Linked DNA regions of Homo sapiens. The protein of the gene in region 2 purifies or fractionates together with the protein of the main gene of each other region. This does not show direct contact. Each region holds a gene or a part of one and is shown on either strand. Other genes may lie near its edges. The genes, in order: TRDN and TMEM238.

The links.
Region 1: the proteins of TMEM238 (region 2) and TRDN purify together in Homo sapiens (co-immunoprecipitation; one large-scale study listed by IntAct). This does not show direct contact.

The regions. Positions count from the first base shown.
Region 1 is NC_000006.12:123,542,745-123,546,573, forward strand, and holds part of TRDN (triadin), read right to left. Parts: intron 1-3,829. UniProt on the Homo sapiens protein: Contributes to the regulation of lumenal Ca2+ release via the sarcoplasmic reticulum calcium release channels RYR1 and RYR2, a key step in triggering skeletal and heart muscle contraction.
Region 2 is NC_000019.10:55,378,744-55,382,057, reverse strand, and holds the end of TMEM238 (transmembrane protein 238), read left to right. Parts: intron 1-2,690; 3' UTR 2,691-2,814; downstream 2,815-3,314.

The DNA.
Region 1 (3,829 bases), on a different chromosome or scaffold from region 2:
TACCTATGCTGAAAAAAACATATATTTTTTAACTTTGCTTTAAGACTTTTGGGTTTTCGCTCTCTCTCTTTCTCTCCCTCCCTTTTTCTTTCTCTCTGAGTGTGTGCATGTTTGCGTGTGTGTGTGTGTGTGTGTGTGTGTGTCTGTCTGTCTGTCACTGCGTCTGGCCCTGGTTTTAACTTTAACTTTGGGTCTTTATGAATAATTAAGGGAATTAAAATTTATATTTCTAAAAAATAGATATCATTACTATTATTCACATTTTCATATGCTTTCAGTTCAATTTATTAATAACATCATATAAAGATTTACCCTCTTCTTTATCAAATATACAATGCCCCAACTATTCTAGCTTATTTACTGCCTTATTTGATCATGTATTCATTAAATTTTTAACTGTGGTATTTGCAGGACATTTTACTAAGTAAGGTGATCTTTTACACCTTTGCAATTACGTAAGCTATAAAATAACATGTTGCATTGATCCTGATGCTAGCAATACCACATCAAAACTCCATTACTGTCATTTACTATTTTATTTAATAAATGTTCATCATTAGTCTTTGGGAATGTGGTAAGCAAATAGTACATGTTCTCTTCCACCAGCTCATTGCTTGGCTCATAGAAAACACTTGAAAAAGATTAATTGAAAAAAATACATTTGTTGATTGAGTTTAATCCCAGAAGGCATAAAACATGTCCGAATTCTGTATTAGTGATTAGCTAAGGATATACATTGTACCGTCGTGAATCTTAGACCTCTGTGCTTTGCTCTCACTCAGAAACCTAGGAGTTACCCAGAAAGCAAAATGTTTATTTTCTATTACAATCATGCTCAATTTTTTCCCTTTTATATTTCTTAGAAATTTTGCAAAACTCTGCATCCCTTCCTACAAGTTCTAAAATTTTTCATCATAAGTTGAAGGATTACAAGTGATATAATTTATAGATTATTGTAAATGTTGACATTTAAAAATAAAGTTGCCATATCCCTTTTAAAAACTGAGTTGATGGACTCCAAACACTATAATATTTTTAGATGTCATTATCAACTTAAAATATTTATCAAAAAATTATTTCTTAACATTTGGAAGGTTTTCATCTTTCTCTTTTCTCTTTGAATTCATATTTTCATTCCACCTCTCTCACGAAAATTTTACCCAAGAGCTACATTATGATTCTCTAAGGAAAAAAGTGTACATATTGAAAATTTTAAATTTCCTCCATATTCTGTGATTTCACATCCTGTAATATATTAACCTTTAGACTATAAGAATCTAAGAATCTAAAGGTTAATATATTGCAAATCTTCATAAGTTATTATTAAACCTGAAAAATGAATTTTTTTTAGAATGCCATCGAATGAATGGAGCTTTAAAATCACCTATCTGTGGATTAATGTATTTTACAGTTAGAATGAGACAGCGTTCATCAATAAATCTAACCCTATATTTTACTTTTAAAGATACAAGTATTGAGAAGCCTTATGCACATCTGTACATACACACACACACACACACACACACACACACACACACACACACACACAGTCTTATTGGGGCAATGTTACTTAATTTTTTTGTCTCCTTCCAAGTAACGTTGAATACCACAAAGAACCAACAACAGATTTATTTATATTTGAAGTGGAAATAGTACGGTTATAAACCGGGCATGCTCTCAAGCAGATCAATTTTAGGAAAACATTCAAATGACATTCAATTCCTTTAAATCTCTCTGCAGTTTTATACCCCTTAGAAAGTGAGGTGCTAACAGATCCATGATGTATACCCTGGTGTGAAAAATATTGCTTAAAAGCACACTTCCAGATGTGCAAAGTATACCACTATACACAACAAATAATTTTTTCCGAAAATGTGATTTATAACAGTATTTGGTTTTCATACTTATAATTTTTAGACAACTATGTAATAAAATATAGTATTTTCTAAAGATTCAGTGCCTTGGGGTCTCATCATGAAGTGTTTAGTAATAGAACTTAGTATTTTAAAATTTTGACAAGTTGAAAAATATGCATGAAGAATATAAAGACACTAGGTACTACATGTAATACCCTGAAGCTATATTTATATATAACAACAGATTCCACAGGCTAGCAGAATCAAATATTTCATCCATATTAATAATCTGTTTAATAATCAATACTGCAACCCTGAGATTAGTCGACTACACCATTATTCCATACCAAATTAAAAACTGCAAACTTCAACCATAAATAACAAACTGGCTGAATTTTTATTTTGTTAAGAATAGCAGTAACTCAACAAATAAAACTAAGTGTATTCAAATAAAATGTTTTAGGTAGATATAGGGCAGTTGAATAAAAAAATGCTACAGCCTGATAATTTAGGCAATAAAAAATGACTAAATATTATTGAATATATATGAATTGAGAAGGGTATTAATGAAGAGTCATTTAGATGTGTAAAAATCAAATGTTTTAAAAGACTATCATTCTACATTGCCCCCAAATTCCTTCTTAAACCAACATTTGTAAATGTAAACATGAGTAAAATAACTTATAAGACAAGAATAATTTATAGAATTTCTCCCCAATAATAATGTTAAAAGTATACTTAAAATGTAGAATATGTATTATAAATGTTTTATAAAATATTACCTACTGCTTTAAAGCTCTCATTGCCTCTATACTTCCATGAAAGAAAAGCTTACACATAAAAAATAATAATTACAATGAAATAGATCTTCTTGAATTCACTTTCAACTAAGGTTTATTATTACATAGCCTCTGTACCCAAGATAGAGCATCTGAGATTTTTACTTAAATGTCAATTTTTTTCATGTAACTGTGTGAATAATACTATTAAGAAAATATATTCAGGTGATTTAAAGTCAATTCTCCTAATTCTGAGTATGTAATCTTTAAGGACATTAGTGCACATGTGTTGAAGGACATATATCCCTTAGACTATTTTTGACTAATAAACATTTCTAACATTTTTTAAAAGTACCCTAAACAACTATTTAATAGTTTTTCTGGCAAAAATTTGATTTGCTGAATCAAGGAAATAATTTAAGAAACAATAGTAAAACAGCTTTGTATGAATTTGCAGTTTATACTAATTACTATATGAAGCTTAATTTTAAAATAATTTCAAAGAAAAATTTAAATCAAAAGAAAAGATTTTTTATTAAATAGTAAATATCAATTTATGAAAAACATGGCTTTATAATAGTCTTATGGAATTCAGTTTATAAGTATAAATGAGCAAACATTATTTATCTGTTTTCCCTTCTTCCATTTCCAATGAAAATAAACGTGCATAAGCTGTTATTTCCAGATAATGACTAATAACTCACTTAAAGCTTGACTATGTTCACTCTCTATGGGAAATCAGCTATAAATCTCTTGAAGTTTATAGACAAATCTAGAATCTCTAAACCTGGATTTGATGGCTGAAGTCTGTCTTGAGTACTTGAGTTCTCATTCTGGATTTGCAGGTGTATAAACCCTTCCTTTCTCCTCACAGAGCTTTATAAACACTTTCATTTCTGGATGCCTTTGCCATAGTTGAGTTTGACTGGCTTAGCTCTTTTTTGCTGTGTAAGTTACAAATCCAAAGTTTCTAATTTAACATACACTAAGTGGATTTTACCCCAGATAGTGTGGGGTAGTCATCATTTTCTCAGGGAAGGCTGAAACTGTAAGTTTGGATCCCATTGTTTGAATCCACAGTAGGTATTAGGAGAGAGCAACAGAAGCCAGGGTTATCTTCCTGGGTAAACCCTCAACAGCCTGCCCATGTGTAGCAGTAACTAAAACACTGCAATTGTTTTAAGTCTGGCTTGA
Region 2 (3,314 bases):
TGGATGGACGGGTGAATGGACAGATGGGTGGGTGGGTGGATGGGTGAATACATGGGTTGGTTGATGCAGGGATGTGGTTGGATTGACGGATGGATGGGTTGTTTAATGGGTAGATATGGGTAGGTGGTGAATTGGGCAATGAACCATGAATGGATATGGTTGGAGAGGGAGCCCTGCCTGATAAAGGGGCAAGAGCTTTTCCTGATACTTCTCTGTGTCCTCGGCCTCACCCATGCAGCATGGTACTGGGGAGGCCTCAGAGACTCCTACTGAACAAAAGAAATGAGGGTGCCTGTGTCACCTCCCCAGGGCACCTTAACTTGCGGTTACACCTGGGAACTCCTTGGGGCAGGGGCCTCGGCTGGTCCATAGGACTATCCATAGGACAGTCAGAGTTTGCCCAGCCTCTGTGCGCTCTCTGGATAGATAGGTAGATGGGTGAATGGGTAGTTGAATAGATGGTTGGGGCTGAATGATAAGTACACAGATGAGTGGATGAATGCATTTAATGGCACATGGATGGTTGGGTGACTGAATTCATCTCTCAAATAGGGTTTTGGTAAAAGAATTAAACCCTATTATCCTAGGACGTTCTATGTAGGTAAATAATTAACTTTTTTTTTTTTTTTTTTTTTTTTTGAGATGGAGTTACACTCTTGTTGTCCAGGCTGGAGTGCAGTGGCGCAATCTCGGCTCACTGCAACCTCTGCCTCCCGCGTTCAAGCAATTCTCTTGCCTCAGCTTCCCGAGTAGCTGGGATTACAGGCATGCACCCCCACACCTGGCTAATTTTGTATTTTTAGTAGAGACGGGGTTTCTCCATGTTGGTCAGGCTGGTCTCAAACTCCCGATCTCGGGTGATCCGCCCACCTCGGCCACCCAAAGTGCTGGGATTACAGGCGTGAACCACCGTGCCCGGCTGGAATTAACTTTTCTCCTATGCATCCAGAATGCTACCAGTTATATATTATTCTTTGTGAGATTTGGGGAAATAGTCACCCCAATCATATGCTACGTGCCGTGATTCAGTGAAGGAACTGGGGTAAGAAAGCATGAACATCTGCTTGCACGGGTGAAGCGTAAGCTAACATGAAGCTTGGCATAGAATGCAAACATAAGCACCTGTAGTTACTGTTACCTTTGGAAATCCTGGCTGAGCACAGTGGCTCATGCCTGTAATCCCAGCACTTTGGGAGGCCGAGGTGGGAGAATTGCTTGCTTGAACCTGGGAGGCAAAGGCTGCAGTGAGCCAAGATCACGCCACTGCACTCCAGCCTGAGTGACAGAGTGAGAACCCGTCTCAAAAAAAGAAAGAAAAGAACATCCTTTATGAGGTTGGGCATGGTGGCTCATGCCTGTAATCCCAGCACTTTGGGAGGCCGAGGCGGGTGGATCACCTGAGGTCAGGAGTTCGAGACCAACCTGGCAACCATGGTGAAACCCTGTCTCTACTAAAAATACAAAAATTAGCCAGGCATGGTGGCGGACGCCTGTAATCCCAGCTACTAGGGAGGCTGAGGCAGGAGAATCACTTGAATCTGGGAGGCGGAGGTTGCAGTGAACCAAGATCGTGCCACTGCACTCCAGCTTGGGCAACAGAGCAAGACTCCATCTCAAAAAAAGAAAAGGAGAGGAGAGGAGGGGAGGGGAGGGGAGGAGGGGGGAAGGGGGAGGGGAGGGGGAAGCAGGGAGGGAAGGGGGGAAGGGAGGGGAGGGGGAAGGGGGAAGGGGGAGGGGACGGGCAAGGGGGGAGGGGAGGGGGGAAGGGGGGAGGGGAGGGGAGGGGAGGAGAGGAGAATCCTTTACGTAGCTTAAACGTCTAACACAGCTGCACAGGCCTCCACTCTTGGAGCCTCCACCAAAGACTCAGACCACACTGACTCGAACGTAGGCCCCACTTAGAGGAAAATGGGCCTGTTCAAACCCAGGACTCTTGTTTACTGGGGAGAGTGAGCAGCTTCCAGCGCATGAAAGACAGAGAACCTGAATTTTAGCAGAGGGACCCACAGGTTCTGGCTCTGGTACCCCCACAACCTCCGAGACCACCATGAGTAGCCGGGCAGAGCCACCCCCATCACTCTGTTGTTCAGGCTGGAGAGCAGTGGTGCAATCACAGCTCACTGCAGCCTCCACCTCCTGGGCTCAAGCAATCCTCCCACCTCAGCCTCCCAAGGAACTGGGACTACAGGTACCAGAGACGGGGTCTTCCTATGTTACCCAGGCTGGTGTCAAACTCCTGGGCTCAAGTGATCCTCCTGCCTGCAGCCAAAATGCTGGGGTGAGGGTCTGAGATGAGGACCACGATGCCCGGCCTCCTTCTGTCTTCACTGTGTCTGCCTGTCTCCCTCTCTCTCACTCTTTGTCTCTGTGTCTCTGTCTCCCAGGTCTCTTTCTTTGTCCCTGTGCTTCTGCCTTTCCCCTTCTGCATGTCTTCGTCTCCCCCTTTCTGCCTCTCCCTGGCTCGCATTCCCTGGCCTCTACCCTTGGATTTCAGGGCGTTAAAGGTACACACGCATGCACACACTCAGCAAATGGGGGCATGCAGGGATGAAGGAGCAAGTGTGTGAGTCCATGTGAGCGGCAAGGGCAGGCGGATGGGGCTCCCTGCCTCTGCCCCCGCAGGCAGAGAGCCCGGAACAGGGATGGGAGGGGTTCCTGAGCAGTCGCTCACTCCACCCTCCCTCCTGCAGACAACCCCTTGGCTCCAGCTGTCAGGACCAGACTGAGATGTGCAGCTGCCCCTACATCCGTGGCCAGACGGACGCTCCCTGTACCCCCTCCCTCCTCACTTGGATAAAAAGCAGATTTGCCTTAGTGCTGCATGTCTGTCTGGGAGAGGGACCCTGCTGGGGTGGGAATGGAGACGAGGTGGCTTGCTTCCTTCTAGCACCCAGGTGGGCCTGGCCACACCTGAGGTGAGGCTGCCCCTGCCCTGGGGAGACCAGGAGCCCTGGGGATATAGGAGCCTAGCCTTATGCTGGCCCCTTCTCAGAGGGGGCCAGAGAGGGGGCGGGGGATAAGGATCTTAGCCCAGACCCTCCACTCTAAGCCCCAACATCCCTGTGTGAGTTTGGGTTCACTGAGAAGCAGACACAGAGACAAACTGGACTTGCAAGATATGTCTTGGGGAAACACTTTTGTAGGGTAGCTTGGTGCAGGGAGAGGGAGGGAGGGATGGGTAGGACTAGTCTTAGACTGTACCGCACCTCCAAGAAAATTGCCACTGGCCCCTGGGGAGCTGGGAGCTGAAGTCATCGTCCATGAGGGAGGCCCCTGCCCTTCGAGAAGGCACCTGTACCCGGAACCCCCACCCC